3 separate regions of the Homo sapiens genome follow, and all the other regions are linked to region 2. Evidence: fine-mapped expression QTL. A gene starts in region 2. Each other region holds a variant in brackets. All regions are shown on one strand. Distances are between the middles of the regions. Region 1 overlaps FOXP4 (forkhead box P4). Region 2 holds the start of FOXP4 (forkhead box P4). Region 3 overlaps FOXP4 (forkhead box P4).

What was found. PIP is the estimated chance that this variant, and not a neighbour inherited with it, causes the effect.
Region 1: its variant is fine-mapped to the expression of FOXP4 in esophagus mucosa (GTEx, PIP 0.99).
Region 3: its variant is fine-mapped to the expression of FOXP4 in prefrontal cortex (ROSMAP, PIP 0.92).

What each region holds. Positions count from the first base shown.
Region 1 is chr6:41,573,358-41,581,528 of GRCh38, reverse strand. It overlaps FOXP4 (forkhead box P4), which reads right to left. Exons shown (of 17, transcript NM_001012426.2): 3 at 3,448-3,543. Among named protein-coding and RNA genes, the nearest start is that of MIR4641, 21 kb to the left of the region's middle. RefSeq lists enhancers at 1,906-2,528, 2,529-3,152. The variant G/T (reference allele first, on the strand shown) is at 4,872.
Region 2 is chr6:41,541,896-41,550,066 of GRCh38, reverse strand. FOXP4 (forkhead box P4) reads right to left here and starts at 3,686. Exons shown (of 17, transcript NM_001012426.2): 1 at 3,200-3,686. It overlaps FOXP4-AS1 (FOXP4 antisense RNA 1), which reads left to right and starts at 1,446. Exons shown (of 2, transcript NR_126415.1): 1 at 1,446-1,689. RefSeq lists silencers at 2,370-2,519, 2,810-2,989, 3,060-3,739, 4,070-4,339, 5,382-5,676 and an enhancer at 3,890-3,999.
Region 3 is chr6:41,584,844-41,593,014 of GRCh38, reverse strand. It overlaps FOXP4 (forkhead box P4), which reads right to left. Exons shown (of 17, transcript NM_001012426.2): 4 at 8,124-8,171; 5 at 7,498-7,584; 6 at 5,859-6,006; 7 at 5,503-5,716; 8 at 5,118-5,222; 9 at 4,284-4,371; 10 at 3,161-3,244; 11 at 2,845-3,052; 12 at 2,668-2,744; 13 at 1,693-1,794. Among named protein-coding and RNA genes, the nearest start is that of MIR4641, 9.8 kb to the left of the region's middle. RefSeq lists enhancers at 1-36, 7,591-8,170, 8,171. The variant G/A (reference allele first, on the strand shown) is at 4,759.

The DNA.
Region 1 (8,171 bases), 31 kb before region 2:
GCAGGGCCCATGAGTCACCATCTGGAGAGTAGCTGGGCAGCTAAGTGCTAACTTAAGCCCTGGCAGTGTGAGCCCTGGGCCAAACGCCGGCAGCTGCCTCCAGCCCCTCCCTCAGGGACCCTGCACCCACCCATGAATACAGCGTGCTCGGCTGGACGGTCTGACTGGAAGGAACAGGGACAGTGCCTGACACACAGGAAGCTTATTTGAGGGCTGAGAGTGGGAACGAATGCAATTTGGTGCCAGGGTCAAGAACCCAAATTGTCTCTTGAGTATGGGGTCCCTGTGAGTGGGGGGCAATGTGGGGAGATCAGGCCAGAGTTTGGTTTGGCTTAAACTCTCCTGCAAATGACCAGAAGTCCTCAAACTAATCCTGGGCTGCAGCTGCAGCAAGGAAAGATAGCAGTGAGATATAAAGAAGAACTTCTGAAAATGCCAGATGGGGATGGACGAAGCCAAGGCCCCAGCCACCTTTGCCCCCATCATGTCCTCAACTCTCGGCCACCTGTGCTGCCTTCTATGATAGGTCTCTCCCTGGTGGGGTCCAGGCCTGGAAGGAGGGCCCCTCACTAGGCTGGAGCTGGAGACCTGACAATAGTTTTGGAAACTCTTCTGAAGCTGGCTCTGGAGGAGAGGGATGGTGAACGTGGCTGGGAGGTGCGTGGGCAGAAAATCCTGCTGGGGAGCAGAGCAGCGTTCTGTGGGGAGCCCTGGGAAAGGAGCTGCGCTTGATCTCCCTTCATTATCCACTGCACTCAGGCTCAAGATGCACTCTTCTGCTCGGGTGGGGAGCCCAGTCCTTGCTCTCCCCTATCCCCTCACCAATCTTGAGCTCATAGAAGAACATTTCAAGGCCCTGGGCCCTACTTCAGGACAAGGATCTGACCTCCTTGGAGATAATAAACTTAGGAATAGGGGCAGAAGGCAAGGAAGGTATTCAGGGTTGGAGAAGAAATAGAGGGATCAATATAGGTAGGGAATCCAGGCTCCTGGGGAAGCATGGCTCCATGGCCCCAAGAACCCCCATATCCCTGAGACCCTGAGAACCATCTGGCCTAGGCTTCTACACCAGGGAAATATTGGCATTATTACCAATATTGTGCCAAGCACAAGGGATCGTCACAATGCAGAGATTAAAAGTGTGAGTTCTACTGGCCGGGCACGATGGCTCACGCCTGTAATCCCAGCACTTTGGGAGGCAGAGGCGCGCAGATCACCTGAGGTTGGGGGTTTGAGACCAGCCTGACCAACATGGAGAAAACCTAAAAACACAACGCTACTAAAACCTACTAAAAATACAACCCTACTAAAAATACAAAATTAGCTGGGCTTGGTGGTGCATGCCTGTAATCCCAGCTACTTGGGAGACTGAGGCAGGAAAACTGCTTGAACCCGGGAGGCAGAGGTTGTGGTGAGCTGAAATCACGGCATTGCACTCCAGCCTGGGCAACAAGAGACTCCATCTCAAAAAAAAAAAAAAAAAAGTGTGAGTTCTGGAGCTATTGGGTTCAAATCCTCACTCTGTCTTTTATTTGTTGTATAACTTTGGACAACTTTCTTAACCTCTCTGGGCCTCAGTTTCCTCATCTGCAAGATGGGGCTAGAATAGCACCTCTCCCATAGGACTGTGAGGATAAATGAGATAGCTGTAAAGCGCTTAGTGTCTACACTTCATGGTAAGCACTCTGTATATGTCAGTTGTTAGTTTGGGATGTACTCAGTAAGTATTTGTTGAATGAATGAATGAATCAATCAATGAATTTTTGGAAGTAATGAGACAAGGAGAGAGAAGGCCTGAGAAAAACATCATTTTATCTGTCTTTCTGACTCTGAAACCTCTAGGCCTCTCTTATTTTGGAGGGAGGGAGTTTCCTAAGGAAGATTCCATAGTCTCCCTTCAGCTCTCAATTATTTCAGATCTGTGACCCTTAATCCCCAGCTGAGCAGTCCTTCTAGATGTCTTACCCCAGTCCCTCCCACTACCATCAAGCTCCTACCCTCCTACCCCTGGGTCAGCAGCCCCTTTCTGGTTTGGGGGAACGTTTGCTGTTGTCCAGCCTACTCCTTCCTGTTCTAAGCTGGGTCCAGGGCGGGCAGGATTCAGAGTGGAAGCCCAAGGACCACTTCAAACCCTGGGATTGTATGTGGGGATCATTAATTTAAAGAGGCCCAATCCTGACCAGCATGGGTATGAGAACCTTTTAGATCTCATTCTGATGAGATCTTTCTCTTCCTCTCTTTATTGACTTTCCAGATTGTGTCTTCCCCTCCTCCACCCCAGGCCACGCCCTGATCTTTGCCCAGCTCCTCCCCTTTGAGGGTTGTCTCCTTAGGGTCAAGAATTTTAAGAGGGTTACTGTTAAGGCTGCACATCTGTTGGGCACCTTGAACTTTTTCCAAACATAAACTTGTTTTACATAAAACTCAGACTTTGTCAGAGCACTGGAATCTCCACCCAGGACAAAGCCTGGTCCTGGGTCCTTCTCTGAGCACCCTGCACCCACCCCACCCTCCTCTTCACTTCCCTCAGCACCCAGCCCCAGACTCCAGAGCACCTCCAGCTCAGAACCAACCATACTCACCCTTCTTCCCTTAGATAAACTTCCTTTCAAAGCCTGGCTTAATCCCTTCCCCAATTCTGAGCCTCCCTCTGCTGGGGGAGGGGTGGGGGGAGCATGGATCCCGGGCTGCTGGGCAGAGGGGGAGGGGAGTGGCTGCCCGAGTAGTGACCCAACCCGGACTCAGACTGCAATTCTCCCAAGTTCTTTGTGACACAAAAGGTAAACAGAAGGCCTGGCTCCCCCACCCCCCGCCCACCCCCCACAGATCTCCCCTCCCCCAGCCAGCCAGATGGGCTGGCAAGCTGGAGGGAAGGGAGAAGGGGAAAAAAGGGCAGATTGTGCAAAGGAAAACAAAAGAGACAGAGAGACATCAAGAGACAGGAAGCATGGAGAGACTGCGAGAGAGCTGGTGGATGAGGGATAAGGGGGGAGGATAAGAGAAGGGGGGACTTGGTGACGTGACTGCAGCAACAGAGATGGCCTGGGAGGGGCTGAGCCCCAGACACAGGAACACAGAGGGACAGAGGGAGTGACCGACAGGGACGCAGAAACATGAGAAGTGACCAAGAGAGACCCTGAAGGGAAGAGGCAGGGGAGAACAAACAGTGAGAGAGGTACAAAGAGACAGGGAGAGCTGCAGACAAACTTTGAGTGACAGGGACAAAGAGGCTAAGCTAGCGGAAGGTCTGGCTGATCAGGTGGAGACGAGAGAAAGTGGGAAGCCTTTTTGCCCCACCCCTGCAGTGACTGTATTTCCTTTGAAAAGTTGCCCACTTTTTGGTGTTGGAACTGGCAAGAGCAGTTCTCCAACGGGTCCTTGCCCTCCCTCTGTGCCAGGCCCACACTCCAGCCCAACCCAGAGCCAGCGGGGTGCTCTCTTCCTCACCTGCACAGCAGAGGCAGACTGTTTGCTGTCATTGTTCCCTGGGGAGCTCAGGCCTGAGGCCTGCTGCAGCAGGAACTGCCGGGCCACTTGGAGAGCCTGCAAGACAGGGGCTGAGTCAGCAATGGCCTGGGAGGCTGGGTGGGATCCAGGGATTAGGGAGTGTTTGGGGCAGTAAGGAGAAGGAGATCAGGGTAAGGTGGAAGGTCTTGGGGGTGAGAGGGTCATGGGTCCATAAGGGCTTGGGGTAAGGGTAGTAGAAGTCACTGAGAAGAGCTGTTGGGGTTCAGGGATCAGAGCCTCTACAGACTCAGCCTGGGACCCAGTGAAGTTTTGTTAGGACTCAATGGGGACAGCAAATGGAAGGGCCCATGGTCAAAAAGGGACTCTTAGAGGAAAATAAAGGGGGTTGACTCAGGGCATTAGTAAATCAGTACTATTTGTTGAGCATCTACTATGGGTCAGGCACTGTACAGGCAAGAGCTTATTTAATCTTCCTCTGTAAGGCTGTAAGGTAGGGATTATTGCCCCATTTTGCAGATGAGGAAACGGAGTCTCCAGGAGGTTAAGTAACTTACCCAGGATCATACAGCTAGGCGGCATCAGAGCCAAGATTTGAGCCCAGGAAGCCTGGCTCCAAGGCCAACTGCCTTACTGGGTGGTCAGTCTGGGGGCTAAAAAGTAGCATTCACTGTGGAGCCAGAGCACACAGTTGGGAGGATGAGGGAAGAGCCCTGGGGTCAGTGGCACAAGGTCTGAGTACCGTGTGACTTTCTGAGTTCAAGGATTGTACATGCATGCTGCTGGAGGAATTAGATTAAGTTCTGAAAGGTATACTATCAGCAGAGATGCATGGACCATCGTGCTGTGGGCTTGGTGGCCACAGTGGCTTAGACTGAACTGAGCCAGAGGGGTCATACGAGTGGGAGGCATATGGAGATTGCTGGAGGAATCACTCCAGTGGGTCAGTGTGACAGTCAAGGAGTAGGAGGGGCCCGGAAGGTAAACTGATGGGCAGTGAGACGTCTGGTAGGAGTGAGGGGTCAGGAGGGCCCAGGAAATTATCTATGAGGCCAGTCAAGCCCTCTATGTCCTCACTATGCTTCAGTGGGAGGTTTGAAGGCAAGTTCTGAATCCACATTTCAGCAGCACAAAATTTATCTGCTTCCAGATTGCTCAAGACCCCCTTGGGAGCCAGTGCAGGTGTGTCTAAGCCCTTGACACAGGGCTCCAACCTTAGGCAGTCCTGGGTCTGAATCCCAGCTGTGCGGCCTGCCAGCTGCGACCTTGGGCAAGTTATTCCAGTTCTCTGCACTTCAGTCTCCTTATCTGCAAAACTGGGAAACTACCCATCTCCAAATTACTAGGGGGATTAAAGGACCAATGTTTGGCATCCAGTTGGCATTCGGGAAGTATTCACTCCCTTC[G/T]GCTCTCATTAATCTCTCCACAATTCTCCACTTCACCTCCTCCAGCCTCTCCCCAACATAGCCTCGTGCCCTGCGCACTTATTAGACGAAATGCGCCCGCCTGTGGCTCTCTCTCACATCTGTCCACACATACACTTGTTTTTTCTGTATGGGCCCCTATTCTCCTACCCCACCACAAGCACCTTCAAGGCAAAACCTTTTAAGGTGGGATATGGCTGCACCACCCATCATCGCTCAACAAGCAAAGAGAGTGACCACTGTGTACCAAGCATATACACACAACCACCTTCGCGTCCGTTCATCATCAGTGCAAACAGCCGAGCCTCCTGAGGCTTTAAATCTAGTTTACCCTAGGAGGGCAACTAAATATGCACTGGCCTATTGACGGGAAGGTGTCCTGCAGCAAACCTGGAGCTCAGATTGGTGTGCTCCTCACAGGCCACCCCCACCCCACCTCCTTCCCTGGATGTCACACCCAGAGAAGTGCCCTGGGCTTCCAGAGGGGGACAGGATGTTTCTCCTCTTCCAGATTCACTTCAGAAAGCAGAAATCTGACCTTTCTAAGTCAAAAGGCTCTGCGGAAAGAGGAGGAAGGGTGGGGGGGGGGGTTGCGGGTGAGGAAGGGCAGGGAGTCAGGTGGTCATTAGGAAGGAGCCCCTGCCTCTACTACCTTGCTTTTACAAACTCCTCCAGGTCTACTGACAAGTGCTCTTTGTCCTCCAAAGGTGGAGGTAGAGTAGGGTTGAGGGGGTACAGGGGTCAGAGGCCAGGGCACAAGGGTAGGGGAAGAAGATGGCTCAGAGAGGCTGGCCAGCCCAGGCGACCCAAAAGGGACACTGGTTGGGGTGGGGAGATGACACACTCCAGATCCCCGGGGGACAGGAGGGAACAGCAGGGAGGGGCTCCTGGGGGCAGTTGGGGGCAGAGCCCTGCTCAGTCTCCTGGGGTGGGGTGGGGGGTGGCCAGGGGAGTTGACTCCCCACTGACTCTCTTACTTTGTGGTCCCCTGGAGCATGAAATTACATGATTTACAGGAAAAAAATGGCAAGGCCTTGCAGTCTCATTCCTGAGACCTCCCCCTCCCTGTGACAGGCCCTTCCTCCCCCTACACCCCCTACCCACAACCCCTTTCCTTCTTCCTGCCAAGACCAGGCCAGATGAGAGCCAGGTAAGACCTTAGGTCTGGCCAAGGCTCCCCTCCCTCAGCTTCCCACCATTCCTTCTCATACATGGGTCCTCACTCACCACTCTTCTCACATCTATGAAGTACCTGCTGCGTGCCAGGGACCAGGCTAGGGGCTGGGGATACACAGAAACAGAATGTGGCCTCTGCCCCCCCAGGGCTCACAGCTCAGGTTCTGTGATGATAGCCTCTAATATAAAGAATGATAGCCAGGCGCAGTGGCTCATGCCTGTAATCCTAGCACTTTGGGAAGCCAAGGCAGGCGGATCATGAGGTCAGGAGATCAAGACAATCCTGGCTAACATGGTGAAACCCCGTCTCTACTAAAAATACAAAAAATTAGCCAGGCGTGGTGGTGGGAGCCCGCAGTGCCAGCTACTCCAGAGGCTGAGGCAGAATGATGGCGTGAACCCGGGAGGTGGAGCTTGCAGTGAGCCGAGGTGGCACCACTGCACTCCAGCCTGAGCAACAGAGCAAGACTCCATCTCAAAAAACAAAACAAAACAAAACACAAAACAAAACAAAACACGAATGATAAGAAACTAGTCAGCCTGAAGTGGGGGTGAGTGCCAGGGGTCAGAGAAGGCTTTCTTCTACCTGGGGAAGTCTCGGAAGGCTTCCCAGAGGTGGTGGCAGCACTAACTGGAGTCTCGCCATCTGAAGGGCGAGTTAACACGGTGAACGAGGAGGGTCACATCGACCACGCTGCTGCACCAGATGTGTTCACACTGCCTGCTGGCACTGCGGCCTGGAGATCACTGGACTGCCCACCTCAGAGAGACGTGGGAAATAATGGGTCCTAACTCCGGCAGATCCCCAGCCCCACTTTCTTTGAATATGCCAACCAGACTGGGGCCTCCTTGAAAGCACAGATGTTGTCAACTGTAGCTGTGAACCCCCATCTCCAACCACCAGCACACAGCAGACATGTGATACCCACTCACAAAACTCATTTTAGTCTAGGCTGAATACGGGAGGCTGGCACAGGCTGACACTAAACTTAACAGCTAACATTTGCCTTGCAGTTTTCAAAGCACTTTTTCAAACATTTAATTGAAGCTTCACAACATTGAGCTAGGTGGAGCAGGTATTGATATCCCTATTTTACAGACAAGGAAACTGAGGCCTGAAGTTCCACAGCTAGGAAGTGGCAGAGTCCAAACACCTCTGACTGCTCAGGGCTTACTCCACTGAGGGGTCTCCATGATCCCATGCACAGTCCAGCGAGGCCTTCAAATCTGCCTTCCCCCTAATCTGCATGTGTTCAGCCCTCCAGTGAGAAGGGGAAGTGAAGATGGTGGAGGTGGAGGAAGAAGACCAAGAAAGGAAACTCCAGGGGAAAACTGGGCTCAGTTTCCCTTCCCTAAGGGCAAGAGATACCCAAACACAGCCCTGGGTGAGAAAGGTGTTCAGATACCCACACCAGGAAGAAGCCATTATGGAAAACCTAGGGGAGGAGGAAGAGGGGGCTTAGGCAGAGTGGAAAACTGGGAGCCATTTGGCCTCTTGAACCTCATTTTTTTCCTCCTTCTACCCCTTGGACTGAAAACCAAATGTCCAGCTCTGTGGTTTGGGGATGATGTCCAGTTTTCCTCTAAGGGAGGTGTACTGTCCATTCATGCATGGACGTCAAGAGAGATCTGGATCCAAGTTCTGGCTCCACCGTATGCTGGGTAACCTTGGGCAAGTCACCATCTCTTTGAGCCTCCGTTTCTTCCTCTGCAAAACTGGAACAACCCCATACTTTCTTCATGGGGTTCCTGGGAACAGCATGTGGGACTGTGCACATGGAGTACTTAGCACACTGCCAGGCACCCAGTAGGTCCTGGACGAACGCTATTATGATGATTGATCTTTCACCAGCAGCTCCTGGTCACTTGCCTGGTGCCACCCAGAAGGCCTTGCTAACCAAACCCTCTTCCAGCCCAGCCCCCATTCCCCCTCAAGCTTAAGAACTCAGTCTCGCTAATGAAGCTGAACTCTCCTCCCCCCATCCCCCATTCAGAAGTCATTAGCAGGATCTCCGCAATTAGGAACAAATGGCTTATAACGGATGGCATCCAGGGAGGGCGGTTGGGATGGTGGAGAATGAAGCTGTAGCTTTGAGGGCAACAGGG
Region 2 (8,171 bases):
AAAAATAGTACCTGCCCTGCCTTGGTCTAGGGAAGCTGGAGCGTGGTAAGATCTGTGAGAAGGGAAACTGTGAGGAGTTTCTTGGATGGAAGAAATTATTATTTCACACAGTTTAGGCTATTCAAAAAATAAAGACATTGTGCCTGCTTAGGATGGGACTGGGGGGCTTGCACTGTGGCTGGAGAGACAGGAAACCGCCAAGGCAGTGGGGTAGGAAGGGTTAAGATGCAGGGAAGGCTTCCTGGGGAGACAACCCTTCCCTCCCCTTGCACCTCACAACTCTCCTCTGAAACAGACACCCTGTTCCCATTCTTCTCCCCTCCACCCTCCCCCCCACCATGTGATATCTGTCTCTCCTACCCCAACAATCTGAGGTCCAGACAGCAGACCCCAGCCTTCACTGCTTGGGTACCCCAGTACTCAGCCTGGGACCTGCCCAGGCAGAGTAGGGGCTCAGCAAACATTTGGGGGAATTACTGGATCAAAAGCAAGCCTTCCTCTCCCAGTCCCTCTGCTTCCCTCCCACCAAGGAAGAGGTATGTTTGGGGTAGGGGCCCAGCAGGATATGCACATTCCTGGCAAGAAGGGACCTACCTGCCTACAGCCAGAACGGAAGTTTTCGGCTCTAAAGGCAGAGGAAGGGGGCTGGGGGCGTCTAGGTGTGAGGAAGATCCCTACACAGAAAGGGACAGGAGCAGGTCCCTTTGCAAGTGGGACCCTTTGCAAATGCTCTGGCCCTGGCGTTCTCCAGCACTGGGGTCAGGTCTTTCTCTCTCCAGGGCTCAGGGGTTCCCCAACTCCGTAACTCCTGGGAAACCTGTCCAGGACAGGGAGAAGGACAGAAAACTCCACCCAGGCGCCCAGCCCTTGGTGCCAGGAGAGAAGGCTCCCATGGTCTCCCAAACTTAGTAGCAAGGCTGGAGCCAGGATAAAGTGGGTCCTGAGGGTCCCGTCCCGCAGGAGAGATTCAGCGCTCACCCTGGCCCTGGGTGTGGAGGCTGAGAGGGGGCAACCACAAAACCACCTCTTCCCCTTGCCACCTTGCCCCACTGACTAGAGTGTGAGTGACTCCCCCAACTCACAGTTTTTTGAGTTTCAGATCGAAAGGGCACCATGGGAGCCAACAAGCTGTCCAGGTACCAAGAGCAGAGCCCCAGTATCCTCCCTCCAGCCACCAGGTAACAGAGCCCCAAAACCCCGAGGCAAAAGTTTCTCAAGTTGAAAAAAAAAAAAAAAAAAAAAGGCCTTCAGACTTCCCCACAGCGGTTTTCCGCGGGGGCGGGCAGAGGTTTTCTGAGGCCGTGGCTCCCCTTCAGGCGGCTGGGTCCACTGGGCCTGGCCTTCGGCCCCTGCACCTACCGGCTGGTTCGCAGCAGGGGGAGGGGGTGGGGGAGAGCTCAAAATGCCCGGTGCCCGCAGGGCATGGCGGTCAGGGGGCCCTTCAGCCCTGGTTTTCTGTGGAAAGTGAGCTTCTGGGTTCGACAGTGGGACCGGCACAGACCTTCCCGCAGCTACAGGCCATACGACAACCCCGCTGCTCTTTCTTTCTGCGGGCACTCGGGCCAGTCCTAACAATTGCCCCTCAAGCTGTGTGTGCTGCCCTAACCCTCAATCCCGAACCCGAAACAGTGCGTGCTGGGACGAATCTAGGCAGGTCTCCGAAACCGGGGTGAAGATGCTGAAGTTCAGGTAAAAACCCGCATTGGCCAAAATGCTCCCGGGCTTTCTCGGGAGTCACCCGAATGGCAACTTCAGGCTCGGGTTTGGTTCTCCGGACTCCCCACCCCTATTCCCGGCTCCAGGCGCCGCGGTCAACCTGCGGGGAGACTAGACGTTGGGGTGCCAGACACGCGGTGATCTCCAGACGCCCGAAACGCCAGGCGCCGAGTGAGCGAGGAAACCAGCCGGGAGGGGGCTGGCCAGGGAAGCCGGGGAGCAAAGGAAAGAGCGGGGCGCGCTCTGGGCTCAGGGTTCCCATACCCTTTCCCCCCAACCTAGGATCGGGGTGGGACGCAGGTGTGTTCACGAGATCGCCCCAGTTGGGGGACACAGGGAATCCGCCGCCGTCTGGGCCTGTCTCAAAATCCGCATTCCGCGAAATTACCCGGTCCTTTATGGGGGCGGCCGGGACCCCAGGTCGCATTCTAGCGCCACTGGCTGTGCTCTGACGCAGCCCAAGGAAGTTTGTTTGGCGTGGATGAGGAGCCCGAGGCTGAAGCGCCGCCGGTCAGAGAGGTGCTGGGGTTGTCCAGGGGAGATACCAGACTCCTCAGTTGGGGCGGGGGGGGGTCCTGCTCGGTCACTCCGGGCTCCTTCCCTGGTGGCCTCCGGGCCCCCGTGGCCGCCCTCTCTTCCCCCCTTAAGTGGTGAAGCGGGAGCTCTCTCCACAGCGGGTGAGTAGAGGTGTCAGCCAGATCGTTTCCCCACCCTCCACCTCCGGCGCACAAATCACAGGGGCCATTTCCAGACGCTCTCAAGTCCCCAAGAAGTTTTCCGCTCTATCCCCGAGCTGACCGAGCGATGGAAAAGGGGCTGACTGGCCCTGGCACTTCCGAGGTGCGACCTCAGCAAGACAAGTCCCCTCTTCACCAGAGACGACACGGCGGGTAGGACCGCGATCCCCCGCTCTCTTGCCCCCATTTTCATCTGTCTCCGGCGCGTCCTGGGGAGTCCGGTACCGACTAGAGTTGGGGGGAGCCACTTCCCTTCCCAGCTCTGGAAAGTCTGGGCCGGGAAGTATTCTTTGTCTGACTCGGGGCGGGGAGGGGGTCGCGCCCCCGTACACCCCATTCCCAGAGGCCCGGCGGGGAGGGGGCGGGGCCCAGATTCTTGGGGAAGGGCGGGCCTCGGTGGCCTCTCCGGCCGCCCCCCTCCCCGCCCCGGCCTCCGGCTGCCCCCACTCCCGCCGCGCCACAGCCCCCACCTGTTCCCGAGGCAGCTCCGGCCCGCTGGGGCCCGGGCCAGGGGCGGAATGTCGCGGCTGCGCGGGGTCAGTGCGCCACGGCCGGCCCTGGCTGGAACAAAGTGCGCCGGCCCGGGCCCGGCTCCTCCTGGCGCCCGGCGCCCAGCGCGTCTCGGGCGGGCAGTTTGCAAACACAAAGTGAGCCAGCGAGCGGGCGAGAGAGTGCGCGAGCGAGGGAGTTGGTCTGGTCGCCCGCCCAGCCCCCACCCACGTCCCTGGGCCCGACCCGCCACCTACCTGTCCCGCCCGGCCGCTCCGTGCGGGCTCCGGCCCGTCAGCCCGCGCGGGGCATGGGGCTCGCTCCGGTCGCAGCCCGGGCCCGCCGCCGCCCGCCGGGGCTGCCCTTCCGCGCCGCCCCGCGTCGCGCAGCTCCCGGGCGTCCTCCCAGCGCGCCGGGCCGACCGCCGCGCGCCTCAACCCCGCCGGGGCATGGCACTTTGTGGGCTGCTTGGCTCGCTCCGGCTCCGCTCTTCCTTCCCGGTCCTTCCGCGACGCTCGTCAGCTCGCTCCGGCTCCCGGGCTCCCGGACCCCGGCGTCCCCGCCCCCGGCCCAGCCCTGGTTCCGGCCCGGGCTCCTCCCCGCCGCGCCGCCGCCGCCTGCGCCGCGCCCTCCTCGCGGGCTGGGGGCTCCGTCCCGGCCGCCGGCCGCCGGCCGCACTGTCCGGTCCGCAGGGACGGCGGGCTCCGGACTCCGAGGGGCTGCGACTGAGCCTGGGCTGCGAGTGGCTGCGAGCGGGCGGCGCGCGGGCGGGGCGGGAGGGGGCGGGGGAGGAGGAGGGTGGAGAGGGAAGGAGGGAGCGCGCGGAGAGCGAGGGAGGAGGGAGCGAGAGAGCAAGCGGCGGAGGGAGGGGAGACCAACTTCTAGTGCTACCATAATTCGCCTAAAGCAGGTGCAGCAACTTTCACCCCGCCTGGCAGCCCGCTGAGAGCGAGAGAAAACCACGTGCACCAAACTTTAGGGGAGGAAAAATGGGAACGTGGGGAGAAGACGTGAGGCGGCAGATCTGAAAAAGATGGTAGGTGGAGGGACCCCAGGGATTCACCCTGGCCTCGGACTAATCCTATGGGGCGCTTGCAAACCCCGGCCATCCCCTGGAGTCTGAAGGTACGGCCAAGTCCTGATCCCACACGGTTCACTGGTTCCCGGCGGGCTGCGCTCGGCGCGGGGAGTGGCCGGGGGCCCAGAGACGGAGCCAGTGTCAGGCCCGGGCCCTGTCTGGCCTCCCTCCTGCTCCCCACTGCGTGGGGGCTGGGGGTGGGCTTCCTGAGCCGAGGGTAGAAGGTGGGGAGGCCCCTTCAGGGCTTTGTGAACGGTCACCCCCTGGCGCGCACTGCCTCCCTCTGCGGAAAGGGAATTTCCCGTAAAGTGCTCTGCGAACCAGTGAAGAAGGGGCCCAAGGCCAGAGCCATGCGGGCAAAGTGAAGTGCAAAGTTGAGGCAATTATCCGGACAAATTAGATTGTAAACAAAACCCCGCGTCTCTGAACATCGCTTTTGCCCAGGGGGACTGGAGGGATTGTGGTGGTGGCGGCGATGGTGTGTTTGGGTTGGGAGGGGGAGGTCTGGGTGAGGAAATGCCCACGGCCCAAGGGGGAGGGCTGTGTTGTTAGCAGACGCACCACTCAGAGTCCCGTGGAAATCTCAATACCCGTCCCCCTCCCCGCCCCACACACGCCGGAAACATCTCCCATCTGTCTGCATGTGTTGGGGGTGGGGAGAAGTGAAGGAGGCCTCAGGGGTCCTCATGAAGTACCCCAACCCAGCTCAGTGATGCCGGGTCCCCATGACCAAGGGAGGATCCTGTTGTGGGATCAGGACAAGAAGACAGTGGCTCTTGAAGCCTCTCCTGGCCCTAAATCCTCAGGCAGGTGGACAAGAGGCTGGCATAGTATGTGAGCCCCTGTGGAGTGGGAGCTGGAAGCCTGAGGTGTGGGGTCGGAGCTGCAAGGATTGATGCTTAGTTGCCTGGGGGGAGGGGATTTCTTGGCCGTTCCAGTGGTCCTTGAAAGAAAAGGGGACCTCAGAGAGGAGGCACCCTCTTGGGTTGTTTTTCATCACTTCTGTCCCTTTTCTGCAATGTTAGTGACACCTGCACAGGTCCACATTTTATGTATTTGCCTTTTTGGGCAGGTGGGACAGGCATACTTAGGTCCTGCTGGAGCGTTTTAGATTTCTAGGTGTGAAATTGTGCAGGGAAGACTCTAAGTGCCATTTATGTGGATATCTCAGTGTCCTTTCCAGTGTGGCAACTGAGATAACCATAGCCATAAGAATAAAATAACAGCTAACATCTGAGTCGTACCACCCACCAGCCATTTAATCTTCACAGTAACCCCAGGAGGGAGATATTTGTATTATCTCCATTTTATAGAAGAGGAAACTGAGGCACAAAGAGATCAAGTAACTTGCCCAGGCTTACACAGCTGCTGGTCAGTGATGAGCCAGATTCCAACTAGAGCCACTTCAGTGAGGACAAGAAAGAAGCTCATGGTGGTCTCTGAAGCGACACTGCCTGCTTGTGGGTTAGCTGAGGGGAAGGATATTCTGGGAGAAAGAAAGCCCTTGGTAGTACTATCTGATTTACCTTCTGTTGAGGCCCAGCTCTGGTGGAAATCATGGTGTGTGGACAGCCCTAGGCCAAGCCTGGAGTGGCAAGTCCTTGTGTCAGACCAGCTGGGCCAGTGACTATGTCCTCAGTTCTCCTTCCTATCCTTCTTGCAGCAAAGGCTGAGGGTGGGGTGAGAACTAGGGGCTTTGGAGACAAAAGAGAGAATTTCTGTAGGGGGGTATTGAATGAGGTGACCTCCGAGGGGCTTCTCCAGCCCTTTTCTGGCTGGTTCACTGAATGTTTTTCCCATCCCCTTCCTGCAGCAGCCCTTGTACCTTACACATGGGCTCACTTGCCCAGAGGGATTGCCCTGGGAAATGCTTCACTTTCAGTTCAGTTTACCCCTCATCTCCAGGCCAGTTCAGTTCCCAGCTCCCTGTGAGCTACAGTGGGGGCTCAAGGCATCAAAAGACCCTGTCTTGTCTTCACCTAAAGGGCATTTTAGCGAGGAAGACAAAGCCTCCCCAAAGAAAGATACAGAACAAATGCCCCGAAATCAAAGAAGCCAGTCCAAAGCCCTTCTTCCTGGTGCAAGAGCTTCGTTAAGAAGGTTGAAAAGAGTAGCCCTTGGCTCCAAAGTGGGAGTGACCGGGAGCAGGCAGGAGGGTCCTCTTTCTGTCCTTGTTCCTTCACAGGACTCAGGGCAGGTGCAGGTGCTTTGGCGGTGGCCGGAACCAAGGCTCATGGCTTGGCCCCTCCAGGGGGGCCATAGTTAAGAGCACAGGGGCTAGAGTCAGGCAGCCTTGGGTTGAACTTCAGCGTCTGTCACTTAACCAGTGTGTGACCCAGGCAAGTTACATGATGTTTGAGTCTCAGTTAACTCACTCATCACCTCACTCATCAATTGGGAGGTTGGGAGGCCTCCTTGGGTGTTTGGGAGGGAGGATGGGCAAAACTTCTAGCCTGGTAATGTGTTCCTCACATGCTTTCCATAATTACTTATTTTCCCCTTGATGAGCTCCAGGGTCCTCACTTAAAATGACGAATGCTGACCTCACAAAACTGCAAATCATGAGTTGCCACTTATTAAATGCTTGCCAGGCAGTCGAATAACGTGCTGTTCAGCTTATCACCCCAGCAATGGTGACTCTTCTGCAGGTGAAGCTAAGAGAGGTCAAATGACTTGCTCAGTTCACATAGCTAGGAAGTAGTGTGGCGAGGACTTGCTCCCAGGTCTCCTGCTTTGAAGCAGACGCCCTTTCCCAAGGTCAGCCGCCACCCTATTGTGGAGGTGAAGTGGGCTGATGGATGAGCTTGTTCCTAGCAGCAGGCCTGATACTCAGGAGTAGGTTGGGGTGGTAGTGGTGTGTACATCTAGAAACATTTGCTTCATTCCCATGGTCCCAACAAACCTAAGCCCAGACAGTTTATGTTTCTATTATTATTATTATTATTGAGACAGAGTCTCACTCTGTTGTCCAGGCTGGAGTGCAATGGCACAATCTCAGCTCACTGCAACCTCCGCCTTCTGAGTTGAAGCAATTCTCCTGCCTCAGCCTCCCGAGTAGCTGGGACTACAGGCTCATGCCACCATGCCCTGCTAATTTTTGTATTTTTAGTAGAGATGGGGTTTTGCCATATTGGCCAGGCTGGTCTCGAACTCCTGACCTCAAGTGATCTGCCCGCCTTGGCCTCCCAAAGTACTGGGATTACAGGCATGAGCCACTACACCTGGCCAAAAACTATTTTTTAGTTATTGAGGAATAAAACTTCATCAGCATAGGCCAGGTGTGGTGGCTCACGCCTGTAATCCCAGCACTTTGGGAGGCCGAGGCAGGTGGGTGGATTACCTGAGGTTGGGAGTTTGAGACCAGCCTGACCAACATGGAGAAACCCCATCTCTACTAAAAATACAAAATTAGCCAGGTGTGGTGGCACATGCCTGTAATCCCAGCTACTCAGGAGGCTGAGGCAGGAGAATCGCTTGAACATGGGAGGTGGAGCTTGCAGTGAGCTGAGATCGTGCCATTGCACTCTAGCCTGGGCAACAAGAGCGAAACTCTGTCTCAAAAAACAAAAAACAAAAATAAAACCCACTTTATCAGCATAATACAGTAACTCCACTCCACTCCACTCCTAAGTATATGCCAATAAAAATGCATATGTACATATGTTCACCAAAAGGCATACACCAGAATGCTAGGCCATCTACTCGCATGTGCTCACTATTCACAACAGCTGTCAACAATGGAATAGGTGACTAAACCACGGTCTTCTCATCCGTGGGCTAGTCCTTGGCAATGAGAATGAGCAAACCATTGCCACGAGCAACAACATGGAGGAATCTCACAAATCCAACGTTGAGCATAAAAGCCAGACACGAAAGAAAACACCGTTTGATTCCATTGATAGGAAATTCAAAACCCAATCCAATGAATTGATGGCATTAAAACTCAGGAGCATGGCTGTTTTAGGTGGGGGTGTGACGGAGGGGCACAAGGGGATTTCTGGGGGTCTTTTTGAATTTGGGAGTTGGTTACATGCATGTGTTCACTTTGTAAACATTAATTGAGCTATACATTTTATGCTTAAAAGTGAAACATGTAAAAATCATTGCTAATATAGGCCTTTCTGTGACTCTCCTTCTTTCCCATTCTCCAT
Region 3 (8,171 bases), 43 kb before region 2:
CAGCAGAACACTGCTAACTGGCAAAGTCACCCACTTAGTCGTTCACTTTCCCCAGCCCAGATGCTTCTTACTGGACCCTAGACTAGGTGAGGGGAGATGGGGGTGAAGAACTAGGAGGAACACACCACAGAGATGTGAAAGGCTGGGCTGGGCAAGGGCGGCAGGGTTAGAATATCAGGGGGGTGGCTTCAGGATGGTCACTGAGTAGTTTAAGGAAGTCACCTAAACCAGGTCACCTAACCTGACCTCAAGAGAAGAGAGAATTAGAAAATTGCAGCAGGGCATTACAGGTAAGACAGAAGGAAGGAAGGAAGGTAGGTGGCTTAGCAGTACTTTGCCCCCAAAAAGGAGGCTGTCTTATGGAAAGGAGGCTCTATATTACTACCCCTAAAGGCAAAAGATTAATATGCTTTATTAAACATTAGGTAATAATTATAATCATCCCTTATGTTTGTAGGACTCTATCATTTATAAAAACCTGGTATCTGAACTGACTTGGAGGTTGGAGACTGGACCAGGTGGTCCCAAGCAAGCCCTGCTGGCTCAGAAAGAGGGCAGGAATGTGGTTGGCAGAAAATGACATCACTCACAGCCAATTACAGCAGCTGTCCCAACAGCCTCCCAGCTTCTCTCCCAAGCTTTGGGAATTGGGTATGAGCATATGAAAGTCATGATGCAGTCCCTTCTGCTGCACTTAGCATAATCCCAGGGCAAAGGGTAGGCAGGCACTGTGCAGACCCCACCAAGTCCTGGGCGCTGGTGGGGAGGAGGGGTTCAGTAACACTTGTTGAAACCTAGTGGGATTGGGGGAGGTAGCCCGTTTAACTGCAGTTTCTTCAGTGGCCAGCAGGGGGACTCAAGAGCCAGGGATCCAATTAAGGTTCTGAGAGGGAGTCCTTCCCCGCGTCTAACCTTCCCTGCAGGGGCGAACACTCTCTCCTTCTTCCCCCCGCCCCGCCCACTCTCCCAATTTAGATATCACCTTCCCACCTTGAGACAGACAGACAGACACACACACACACCCCCCTTTTGGCTATAGAAAAATAAATGGCCTAGTACCCCAGCATCTGTCTCCCATTTTTCTAGAGTCCCCCTCTTGCCTGCTTCTGCTCTCCCAGGAAAACTTATGGCTGAAGGTGTTGAAATGACTAATTGGATGGAGACAATTATCTTCCTGCCAGGGATGGCAGAGCTGGGGAGGGCTGTGAGTGCCGTCAGTGCCCCAATGTGTGGTCCACGGCTCTTGGTCCATCCGTGTGTCTATACCTGCGCTTTCCTAGCCCCACCTCAGGCTTCAGAACATGTACCTTAAGCCAAGGTATCCAGACCCTTAGGGTCTCTGTGAAATTCGGCCCAGGCTTCTGTATCAAGCTTGGGCATTAGCAATTCCTAGAGGCCCTACCTCGTGGGGCTGGCGTCTTTGGGGCCCTTGGGGGTGTACCCTAGAGAAGGATTGCTTCCCAGAAAGGAGGCAGCACCAGGCTGGAAGGAAGGGATCATTAAAAGGTTATGGAACAATCCACAGCCCCTGCTGAGGTGGGCGTGGGCATGCAGCCCTGGCTGGGCCCTTGGGTGGCTGTTTCTGCAGGACTAATGGTTTAGGGAACTAATTGTTAGGCAGCCTTGGTCTCCATGGGATATGGCAGGTCCAAGGGTGACTGGGGCCCAGAAGGTGGAAGGGGCCTGCTTCACCTTCCAGGTGGCAGTGTTTCTGCGGAAATAGGCGAACATCCTGGTGAACCAGTTATAGATCTCATTCAGGGTCAGCTGCCTGTCAGGGGTTTCCAGGATGGCCTGCGGGGAAGGAACAAGCAAAGGGACCGTCAGCCTGGGCCTCGAAGGGTCACAGCCCTGGGTTCCCTCCCCCAGTACCTCTCCCTTCTGCCTAGCCCCGAGTTCACTTTGTGAGAAGACCTGCTCAGAAATGTGTGGATAACAAGATGGGTGGTGGCTGGTGGGTCCCCTCAGAGGGACAGGCTGGTTATAGCTTGGCCAAGGATAAAGAGGGCAGGAGCCTCCAAGGGCTATGTATTTGTACAAGAAGGATTGGAGCTGCTTCTGGAGAGAAAATGCCTTTAGTACCTGGCCCTGCACCGAGGGTGAAAGCAGTCAGTCCTGTCTTTCTTGGGAGAGATGTCCACGGGGTGGAGGCTGTTTGGAATTTATCCTGATTTTGGCAAAAGGTACCCTAAGCACAGTGTGTGTGTGACAGAAAGAATGTGTGTGAAGGTGTACATGCCTGTGTGGGTATCAGGGAGGACATATGTGTCGATGTAAGTTCATGCTTGAGTGTGAATACTATGTGAACATTGGTGACATGAAGATCATGGGCTTGAGGGAGGAAAGACAAAGGAGAGAGACGAAGAGTGACCCTGAGTCTATCATGGCGGGCTGTGTACGTGGAAATGAGCACATGAATGCCACGGTGGGTGTCAGTAAGAAGAACAGTGTGTGCACCCCCAGAGACACATAACCCTATGCAGCAGGCTGACAGGGCCCAGCCTGCAGGAGAGCCCCGCACAGCAGAGAGGGAAGACCGCCACGTGAGAGGGAGCGGGACAGCTCCATTGCTTGGCCCCAGGACCTTCCTGGAGGCAGGGGTGTGGCGGGGGCTGGGGGAGCAGCCTGTGTGCCATTCCCCACCCTCCTCCTACCTGCCCTGCTCACCTGGCGGATGAGGGAGGCGTAGGTGAAGGGGGGCCGGACGTCGGCGTTCTTGTAGAACTCATGATTCTGGGCCAGCTCTGGGGAGACAGGCAGAGGATGAGGTAGCCAGATATGGGGCTCAGATGGGAAAAACAGCCTCACGCTGCTGTCGCCCTGCAGCCCCCAGCCCACCCTCACCTGAGGAGATGGGGGAGCAGAACTTGTCACTGCTTCTCCGACGGGCTGGGCCCCCACCATGCAGGGAGGCAGAGCCCAGGCCAGGGGGCCGTAGAGGGGTGACAGGGGCTGCGGCCGAGGTCGGGGGGTGCACGAGACCATCTGGGAATGAGTCTGCTGCAGAGACGGTCACCTTGGAGAATGAGGAGGAGCCGGGGACCGGGTTCAGCTGTGAGCAACGGGGAGGGTACTGAGACCAGTGCCCGAGGGTGGGGGTCCCGAGGCTCCAGGGTCTGTGGAAGGCTCTGGGAGGGGCGGGGAGGGGAGCAGCACTCACTGGCTGGCTGAAGGGCTTGGGCTCCGAGGGCCGCATGTGCAGGTGGGCCATCATGGCCTGCAGCCGCTCGCTCTCCTTGGCGAGCTGTGGAGGGTGGCAAAGCAGGAGGTGAGCGGGAGGCTGAACCCTGGAGGCAGTGTTGTCCCACCCCTCCACCGCCAGGCTCTTCAGAAGGCCGCCGATTCCCACCCCCATTCGCCTCCTTGCCTCAGCATCCATGCTCCCTCTGTGACCCGCTCCAGGGAGGCCTCAGCAATGCTCTACCCCTCAAGGGCTGCCAGCTCCATGAAGCCTCTCCCTTTCTCCCCTGGATGGTGACCATTTGAGCCCTCCCAGTGCGTCCTGGCTGGAGCTTATCCCTGCCTCTACATGTTGGGAGGCTTCTTCCTACCCACCCACGGGGGGGCGGCCACTGTGCCTTGTGCAGTGGCACTTGTGTGTGAGGGCCTTGCATACTGAATGCAGATGCAGGAACTGATGAATGGCTCAGACACCCCATTCATAAACTCAATGGGTCTCTCATGACCACCCTCTCACAGCAGGATGCTCTGCTAGGTGCTGGAGGGAGATGGGTAAGCACAGAGGAGCTGCCCTGAGTTGCTTCCTGGGAACCCTGTGCTGCTGAGTGTCCCCTCTCAAGTAGCTGGGATACTCCCTTGGGAAAGCCAGGCTGCCTGGGTTCTAATCCCAGCTCTGCCACTCACAGGCAAGTTACTTTAGCTCTGTGTGCCTGTTTTCTCCATCTGGAAAATGGGGAGAATAATGGTACCCACCACATAAGGTTGTTGAGAGGATTCCTTGAGCTATATAAAGTATTTAGCACAGCACAAAGTAAGTGCTCCATATGTTAGCTGCTAATAATTATTTTTGATGTTTCTATGTAGCGTGAGTCTCTTCTGGACCTCCCAGCAGAGACGCCCCCAACCTTGGTTTACCCCTCAGAATCCAGCTGTCCTCACCTCACAACCATGGTCATTAGGACCTAGAAAGCATAAGATGGTGGCTTTGACCATAGGACCCTTCCATGAGACCCTCCCAACAGAGCCCACCTAGCAAGTCAGTGCTGTGGGTGGGCAGGGGCTGGAGCCCACCATGTCCCTCCCCAGCATCTTCCGGGCCACACCTGGATCTCCAGCTGCTGCACCACCTGCATCTGTACCCGGCACTGGGCTGTACTCCGGTCATCCAGGGCGTGCTCTGTGTTGAGGTGTCTTCAAGGGGAAGAGAGGAGGAGAGAAAGTTGGCTCCGGTTTCCCTGCTGCCACCATCCTCCCATCCTATCCTCTAATCCCACCCATGGCCTGAAAAGCAGACAGACCAAGAGATACAAAGAAGAGAAAGAGGTGGAAAAACGGGGCAATGGAGGAAGGCTTCTCCCTTCTCGTCAGCCTCCTTTGATGTCTTTGCTAAAATCCCAGCTACAGAGAGATCTAATTGCAAATGAACTAATTAAGTAAACCTCTGACGAAGCGTGAAAACAATTTGTTTGACCCTGATGCTGCAAGGGTCTGGGAGACAGCGGAGTTAATCAGTCAGTGACAGAGCCTGGCACGGCTGTGGCAGCTGGCCGCCTGCTGCCAGCCGCCCGTCCACCTCCC[G/A]CCCTGCCTGTCTGCGGCCCTCAGCCTGTCACTCGCCATCACTCCCCGGGGCTGAGGCTGGAGGGGAGCAGGGGAGGGTGGGGGGAGGAGTAATGCTTATGTTTGTCCTCTCCTTCTCCTACCCGCACCCTGCGCTGGGGATGGAGTCAGGGGAATGCAGGCCCAGAAATATAGACAGGGTAGGGAGTGGGTGATCAGGGAGTCCGTGGGGGGCAGAGAAAGAACTAGAACCCTCTGGAGTGAGGACAGTAGTACAGCTAGTGAGGAGGGCTCCCAGAAGGGGCAAGCTAGTGGGCAGGGTTGGGGGAGAGGCCCTGTGGGGAAAGGCTGCTGGGGGAGGGGCTGGGGGTGACACCTACTTGATAAACTGGCCCAGGTCTTCACACAGGGTCTCACAGCCTGGCCACTTGCACTCTCCGTGTCCGTACAGGGGGTGGGAGCCGGGGGTCTCCTCGTGGGAAGAGCTGGGAGGACAGCAGGGAGGTGGCCGATCAGGGACCCTGAAGACCCCAGCGGCCCTGTAGTCAGCTGAGCACCAGCTCCCCTGCTGGTGACATTTCTGCCCCAATACAGGTTTCCCAGCGGCCAAGCACCATCTGTACACCCCGGGAGAGGGAGTGGAGAGGGAGTGAACCTCCGGTCCGTGGGCTCCACCCCCTCCCTCACAGTCAGCCCTCATGGGTGGGGGGCCAGGTCTACCCCCAGGCAGGCCTTTGATGCCCCTCCCAGCCTGGACCCCTGTACCTGTCTCTCCGAGATGTGAGCACAGTAGGCTGTCCGTTGGGCAGGGTATGGTGGGAGAGGGGGGGTGAGACCTTGGGGGGAGCGGCAAACGAGGTAGCGGTGGCGGCCGTGCCAGTGAGGTCCAGCCCCTCCTGCTTGACGCTGTCCTCGGCAGGCTGCCCGGGGGCACCCTCGCCCTTCCACAGCTGGGGCAGGTCTGTTGGGCAAACAGCTGCTGTGGGAGAGACAGGGGAGGCTGGCAGGGCCCCACGAACACTCGGCTTTCTACCTGGCCCCAAGAACAGGGGCTGCCAGCTGTTGCGTACAGGCAGGGCTGTGGGGTTGGGGCTGGGAGGGGAGGAGTGGCGGGTGCTCACCTTGCGGAAGGGTCTGGAGGGGCCCCGAGGCTTGGTTGGGCTGCAGGCTGACCAGCCCCTGCCTCTGCAGGTTGAGCAGGTGCTGCTGCTGCAACTGTTGCATTTGCAGGAGCTGCTGCTGGAAGGCCAGCTGCTTGTTCCCCAGTGCCTGGTGAGGGGCCCGAGGGGGCGGGCAGAGAGGGGTGCCATCAGCTTCAGGCATGCCATCTGGCCCCCACCCCGCGGCCACCCCCTCCCAGGGCCTGTCAGCCCCTGGAGCTGTCGTTGTGGCGTCTGCAGCTGCAGTGTCTCTGCTCCCGGCCCAGCTTCCATAAGGCTGCATGCCTCCTCGCAGTAAACACACGCATGCACGCACGCACGCACGCGCGCAAACACACACAGCCAGACCCAGACACGCAGCACGACGCCCTCCCTCCTCCCGCCTCCCTCCTTCCGCTGCTTCAGCTCCCTGCACCGCAGCTGTGCACGCCTGGGGGTGCCTCATCACAATGATCGATGAGCCTGTCAGATTCTGGGGGCCACTCCTGCCTGGAGGGCACCCTTCCCACATGCCCGGGGTGCCCCCTTCTGCTCTGGGGAGGGAGTTTTCTCTCCCCCAGCTCTTTTCCTCTCTTGCTTTTTAGATACAGAGAATCAAGGAGTCTGACGGGACTCACTGGGACCCAGGCTCGGAGAACAGTCACATCACCACTGCCCAGGCGCCCTGTACTCGTTGGCTCACCCACTCTACCTACCCCCACCCATTCAGTTCTTCACACAGGCACTGACAAGTCAGGCTGTCAGCAAGTCTCTCTTGAGCCCCATGAGCCAAGCATGTCCTGGGTGGGTTGAGAGGCAGAGATGTCTCTGCCTGCCTGCTGGGGGTGGGAAGCATGGGGTAGGGTGGGGGCTGGCTATTCAATAGAGAGACACAGGATAAACTTAGCCTAGAGATTTACCTGCTGATAACACAGCAATTACAAGACTGCTGAGGGGGAGACTGGGGGTGCTGGAGAATTCCTGGGTGTCAGGGCAGCCTTCTGGGAAGAGGAAACTTAGAGCTTGGGGCTGCGGTTGGGCAGCAGGAGAGATGCACAGGTCTGGGACCCAGGGGAGAAGGGCCTCCAGGGCCTGGTATAGAAGCTCCGATGGGGTAGGGGATGTAGGCTGGGGAGCTCTGAGAGGAGACCGAGGGGTGGCTGGGCAAGTCATAAGAAGAAGGGGAAGAAGCTGGGGGCAGGCTGAGGTAAGGGGAGGTGGTTTGCTGAGGGACTCAGAGATTCGCAGGACAAGGAGGGGAGGGCTGAGGTGCTGGGTCACAAAGAGACAAGGGGGCAGGAAGATGGTGCGACCACAAGGCACATGAGCGTGGCCCGGCAGACACCACACACGGGGGTGACACGTACACACCTGTCTACACCCATGTGCACAGAGACAACAACACGAGGCAAGGAGAGAAAGAATGAATGGGGATGAGGGGAGATGGAGACACGTAAGAACCACCATCCCCATTTCCCCCACACTGATCCTTGGTCCCCTTCCTCAGCCTTTTCTAGATTTTTCTACTATTCCTGCAAGGCAATTCCCTCCTGACCAGCTCTGGACACCCAGCTCTGGGCAGGGGGTGAGGGCGGTGGTGGGCCCTGGTACAGCCCCTTACCTCTTTGGGCTGCGGTTTCCCAGCCTGCTGCTGGGTGAGGAGCTGCAGGTGGAGCTGCTCCTGCTGCTTCTTGTAGTACTCCTGTAGCTGGGGGGGTGGAGGAGGGTTACCACTGGCAGGGTACTGCTATCCCCACAACCCCAGCCCTGTCCCATCTGGGCTCCTGGGGGCAGGAGAAGGGAGTTTCCCTAAAACATGGTCTGGCTTTCCCCAGTCAGCCTGGAGGGGCCCTGAGCAGGGTCTGGGTGCGGAGGGAGGGAGCAAGGGATGGAGGAGTTTCATTCCCACAGCTCTGAACCCTCCCTGCTTTTGGTGGATCTCCTGAGCAGGTCACAGGGGACAACGTGCCAGAATGTTCCAGTACTTTGCCCTTCCCTGTTCAGGAGATAGAAGTGGGGCCAGCATGCAGGGAGGGAGGACCGGGGAGTATTGTGGGGGCAGGGCCACCATAAGAGATGCCTGACCTTTGACCTCTCCCCACTACCCTAGAGGAATGCAGATCAGTCTGGCCTGAGCAGTCTCTCTGGTTTCTGGGACAGCTTGGGCCCTTGGTGAGGTGTAAACAGGGTGGGAGGAGCCAGGCCAGGCAGAGGAGGAGGGACCAGCTGCCCTGGGGCCAGACTCACCTGCTGGAGCATGAGGGCTTGCTGCTGCTGGAGCAAGGCCTGCAGCTG